Linked DNA regions of Homo sapiens: region 2 is linked to region 1. The links come from fine-mapping of genetic effects on gene expression. A gene starts in region 1. The other region holds a variant in brackets. All regions are shown on one strand. Distances are from middle to middle. Region 1 holds the start of ABCC11 (ATP binding cassette subfamily C member 11). Region 2 overlaps ABCC11 (ATP binding cassette subfamily C member 11).

The links. PIP is the estimated chance that this variant, and not a neighbour inherited with it, causes the effect.
Region 2: its variant is the best candidate, but not a certain one, in a credible set for the expression of ABCC11 in nasal epithelium (TOPMed, PIP 0.72).

Annotation. Positions count from the first base shown.
Region 1 is chr16:48,246,170-48,249,090 of GRCh38, reverse strand. ABCC11 (ATP binding cassette subfamily C member 11) reads left to right here and starts at 1,552. Exons shown (of 30, transcript NM_001370497.1): 1 at 1,552-1,777. The region is part of intron 1 of LONP2 (lon peptidase 2, peroxisomal); the gene reads right to left.
Region 2 is chr16:48,184,936-48,187,856 of GRCh38, reverse strand. It overlaps ABCC11 (ATP binding cassette subfamily C member 11), which reads left to right. Exons shown (of 30, transcript NM_001370497.1): 21 at 430-656; 22 at 767-904. Among named protein-coding and RNA genes, the nearest start is that of ABCC12, 30 kb to the right of the region's middle. The variant G/T (reference allele first, on the strand shown) is at 1,266.

The DNA.
Region 1 (2,921 bases):
CTGACTACAATGGTTACAATTTGTGTAATTTGGAAACTGACCTAAATAATATAAGAGTTCCAAACATATTTAAGAACCATCAACTGCAGTAGTGGGAAAATCTAAAAGCAGCACTACTGGAAAAAGTTTTCCAAGATGAGGATATTATGTAAATATCTAATTCCAGCCTATATGCCCAGCACTTGCTTTTTTTTTTTTTTTTTTTCCTATAGACAGAATCTTGCTCTGTCACCCAGGCTGGAGTGCAGTGGTACGATTATAGCTCACTGCAGCTTCGATCACCTGGGCTCAAGTAATCCTCCGCCTCAGCATCATGAGTAGATGGGAGTACAGGCACGTGCCACCAGGCCCAGCCACTTTTAAAAAATTTTTTTACTCAAAGCCCTTAATTTTTCTTGGAATCTTTAATCTTCCAAGACCTTCCTGCAATGATGTTAGTTCAGTTCAGCCCGTGTTGGAATAATATGGGGCCTCCCCACTCCTCTCTTTAATCCCCTTTTGTGAAAATCTACATTTAAAACTACCCATTTGGATATAGGTTTAGAATGCTTTGCAGTTTCAAAAGGCTTTCATATGTATACTTCATTTTATACCTCCCTTCACCCCATGAAGAAGGTAGTATTATTTCCTTATTACAAGTGAGTAAATGAGATTCAAAAAGGTAGAACATGGCATGGTGGCTCACACCTATAATCCCAGCACTTTGGGAGGCCGAGGCAAGTGGATCACTTGGGCTCAGGAGTTCGAAACCAGTTTGCGCAACATGGCAAAACCCCGTCTCCACCAAAAAAAAAAAAAAAAAATAGCTAGGCATTGTGGCACATGCCTGTAATCCCAGACACTCAGGAGGCTGAGGTGAGAGGATCACTTGAACCTGGGAGGCAAAGGTTGCAGTGAGCTGAGATGGCACCACTGCACCAGCATGGGTGACAGAGTGAGACCCTGTCTCAAAAAAATTAAAGTAGAACAACTTAGGTGTACATGGTTACAAGAAAATGTAATAGAAATAAATTTAAGAAATAAATTTAAATTTAAAATTTAAAGGATAAATTTAAATTTAATAAATTGAGTTCCTTAATTATATTTTAAGACAAATTTTACTTTTTTCTCATTACAATGGACAATAGGTACCACTTCTACCTACAAGAATTATAAACATAGGCCAGGCATGGTGGCTCACGCCTGTAATCCTAACACTTTGGGAGACAGAGGCAGGAGGATCACTTGAGCTCACAAGTTTGACACCAGCCTGGTGAGGGAGACTGAGAAGTCGGCACTATGAGGAAATGAAGCCATGTACCCTGAAAAGTGTAAATTTGGAAGAAAGCTGGATGACCATCTTGAAATGCTTGAAAGGATATTGTACAGGTAGTACTAAATTATGACCCCTTTTCACTAAGAAAACAATGGGTCACTCAGGAAGCACTAAAAATGCAGTTCTACTAAGCAGAAAAATGCAGGGTGCCCTGGGTCAGCATGCCAGCCAAGTTCTATACTGCAGGACAAGTCCAAAGCTCCTCCTTTAAAAAGGCTCCTGCAGGCAACATGCCTGCACACTAACGTGCAGAAAGGGACTGTACTACTCAAAACCACCAAGGAAGTGGCAGAGGTAAGTCAACATCTAATCCTGCCACTCTGTGTGGCAAAGAACGCTGGGAGCAAATTACTTCTGCTGCTCTTTGAAGGCTGTGCCAGCGTCACCTGGATAGCGCAAAGGAAACAAGAGAAAGGAACAGAGCCCCTCTTCTGGCCTCTGGGCTACCATACAGAAAAGCAGGTAACTGGGGAAGGACAGACTTGTGCGTGGAAACAGGCTAATGCTATGGATTACTCAGTATTGGTATTGTTAAAGCCTTTTTTTTTTTTTTTTTTTAAGTAGAGTGTTTTAAAGGCCCTATTAGAGAAAAAAAGACATTGGAAACTATTACCAAGGAATATGGTACAATCTTTCCACATAGGCTTTTTAAGTAGCAAACAATACTTCTAGGATAACTAGATGGTCTGATGAGTTCTTATAATGCCGGACTTCTATGAAGACTTTTCAATATATGTTTTCTAATTTAAATGATTAAATTTTAACATTGCTACTCAGTTAAAGGCAATAATATGAACATCAAGGATCAGATCACACAGTACCTGATTATTAGTGATTACTTTCAAGCAGGAGAATTGAGGATTGTTGCTTTGGAGGGATTTTCATAAAATAAATTAAAAACCTGAAGGGTATGGTGGCGCTTGCCTATAGTCCCAGCTACTCCAGAGGCCAAAGCAGGGGATAGCTTGAGTCCAGGAGTTTGAGACCAGCCTAAGCAACATAGTGAGACCCCATTTCTACAAAAAATTTAAAAATTAGCTGGGTGTAGTGGTGCACGCCTATAGTCCCAGCCACTCCAGAAGCTGAGGCAGGACGATCACTTGAGCCCAGGAGTTCAATCAAGGTTGCGGTGGGCTACGATCACGCCACTGCACTTCAGCGGAGGAGACAGAATGAGACTCTGTCTCAAAAAATACACAAATGAATAAATAATAAAAACCTTCCAAAATCTTGCCAGAATAATACCAACAAATAGTGAAACTTAAAATGTGACTAAATCGACTTTTCAAGTTCACAATGTGCCCATGGCTAATCAATACATATGCACAGTAGAAAGAAAATGAAGTCTAATAATGACCACTCTTGCCTAGACAGGGAACTAAGTGTGCCTGGGCACAGAAGGCAAAATAATTTGGGAAAAGTAAGCAGAAGGAGCAGAGTCGTATGTTGGGAAACTAGAATCCAATACAATTTATCAAAGAGTACTGAAACTTGGAATGTGACCAATTCCACTCAGGCAATAACCAAAGCAGGTCAGATGGGAGCCAAAATATTTTCCATGCTTGAGAAAATCAAGGCTTTTACAATATAAATGAATACTGGGCTG
Region 2 (2,921 bases), 61 kb after region 1:
CCTACCTCAGGGGCAGGCACTGCTCTGAGCATTTTTAATGTATTCTCTCTCTCTCTAATAGCTTTACAGGATATAATTCATATACCATACATTCAGCCTTTTAATTATACACTTCAGTGTTTAGTATATTTGAGGAGTTGTGTGATCCTCACTACAACTCTGTGAAGCATCGTTTTCATTCCCATTTCGCTAACGAGGACCTTGAGACTCAGAGGAACTCAGTACTTGCCCGAGGTCAGACAGCAGTAGGTGGAGGAGTCAGGTAGCCGTGGAGCCCATCCATGCTTTTAAATCATTGCTCTACATTGCCTGCCCTGGAGACCCCTGGGATCCGTGGCTCTTTAGAGTCAAGGGTAACAGGCATCTTCATCCAATCTTGAGCAGGGCCTGCAGCTTCTCTCATGGTCTGCGTTGATTTTGTCCCTGCAGGTTTTCCGCTGCCCCATGAGTTTCTTTGACACCATCCCAATAGGCCGGCTTTTGAACTGCTTCGCAGGGGACTTGGAACAGCTGGACCAGCTCTTGCCCATCTTTTCAGAGCAGTTCCTGGTCCTGTCCTTAATGGTGATCGCCGTCCTGTTGATTGTCAGTGTGCTGTCTCCATATATCCTGTTAATGGGAGCCATAATCATGGTTATTTGCTTCATTTATTATATGTGAGTAGGTTCTTTTTGCTTGTGACTTGGGGAGCAAGGCTGGGACCAACCCAGACTAGATGGTCCCAGAGGTGGACGGTCCAGGTCCCTTACCTCCACTGTCCATGCAGGATGTTCAAGAAGGCCATCGGTGTGTTCAAGAGACTGGAGAACTATAGCCGGTCTCCTTTATTCTCCCACATCCTCAATTCTCTGCAAGGCCTGAGCTCCATCCATGTCTATGGAAAAACTGAAGACTTCATCAGCCAGTGAGTCCTTCTGCTGCCATTTGAGAATGATGGAACCACAGGGGTGGTGGGGAGCAGGGAAAGAATGGAGCGTCTGGGAGTGGCATCATCTTCAAAAGCATCAGAGAGCACATTGTTCGATGGACGTATTTCTCTGAGCCTCCAGAACCTGCTGAACCATTCTTTCATTTATAAGAATGAAAAATGTAAATGATAGGAAAAATGTTTGTAAACTTTAAAGACCTTGTATATATTGTGTATATATATATGGACATATGTATACATACATTTAATGATAAGGTGCATTACTGTGCAAACACATCTTGCATTATGTTATTTCTTTCACTTCCAAACAAATATCTATCTTTAACAAAATAATGAG[G/T]AACAATAGCTTTCTAAATAATAGAACTTCCTTCACTACTCATGCCATAGATTTGCCCCCTAAATGTTGAAACAAACAAGCAAACAAGTCCTGTGATTGTTGTTGAGGTTTAATGGTGTAACACGAACTTATCTGTTTGTAGAGAATAATCAAGCACGGTCTTCACCTACAAGAAGTTCATAGTCTGGTGGAAAAAGGGAGAAACAGGCACATGTTTTTGTAATTATACGTGATTGAAGAAGGTAGATAGCATAAGAGAGGGGCAGATAAACTGCTTGGGAATTCAGAGGGGAAGGAGGTGGCCTGGGGGAATCAGATAAGGCTTTCGGGAGGAGGTGGCATCTGAGCTGGCCTTGAAGCCTGGGTAAGACTTGGGCACACATTTGGGAGACGGTATGTGCTCAGTTAGCTGGAATATTGGATTAATTGTGGCACCTGCTCTCTCAGTGGCATTATAGACCACTCAAGGTCTGTGCAGACTCTAGGACTGAGGGGATCCTGGAGCGGTGCATTCATTCAGCCCACACTGAGAACCCTGCCCCAAGGTATATACTAAGATAAGCAGATGAAGAGAGTCTGGAGGGATTGGAGCTGTTGTTGGGGAAGGTGTCAGAGAAAAGGACCCTGAGATGAAGTGTGGGTTGAGCTATGGAAATATGTGGGTAGGAGCTCTCCAGGCAGAGGGGACAGTAAATGCAAAGACCATGAGATGGGGGAAGTAGGTTTGAAGGATAGCAAGGTGGCTTGAGCACAGGGGCCACAGAGTGACCAGGGTCTGTTGTGTTTAATCTGGGAAGGCCTCAAGGTGGAGGTGACTCAATCAGTATAGAAAGGTAAGGTGGACAGAATTTGGAATGTCTTATGCAAAGGTTCAGAGGGTATGGACAGAGTGAGTCAGAAGGGCCACTCTGCTGGGGTGATAGCCCACTCAGATGGTAAGATGGTTTTAGTTGATGAGTAAATGAATATTTAATTTCAATAATCAAAGGTTTATTTGAATGTACTTTAGAAAAAATGCAACTAACATATCAAACCCATTATTTATATAATTTAAGGTTGTGATTAAAGTTTCTTTTAATATACATTCTCAAACAAAGCAAGTAAAATAATAATACTAATCAAATAACAGTACAGGTTGTGATTGACATGGAAAACTGTGATGGTGGTATGTGAAAATTGGAAATTGGTAGGTTTCTTGGTTGGAAGTGACAGAAAAAACTAATGCAAACTAGCTTAAAAATATGACTTAAATATGGCAAAATACTAACAATTGCTAAATTAGGTAGAGGGTATACAGATGTTCACGGAATAAACTTTTTAATTTCTTGGTACTTTAAAAAATTTTCATTAGAGGGTATACAGATGTTCATTAAATCAAGCTTTTAATCTCTTGGTACTTATAAAAATTTTCATAGCAAAAGGCTGGGGAGGAGGACTTGCTTAAAGTGAGGCTTAATCCAGAGACTCAGCTAATGTTCCCCGGGTGTCTCGGTTTTACTGCTCTGCCTTCCATGGTGTTATTTTACCTTTAAGCTCCCAGAGACCCTCTGGTGGCTCCAGGCTCCCCTCCTAGTAGCAGAATGGTAGTTTCAGATATCCCATCATCCCACTGAAAGGAATCACTCCCACACTCACTCACACGTCCTGGCATTTATT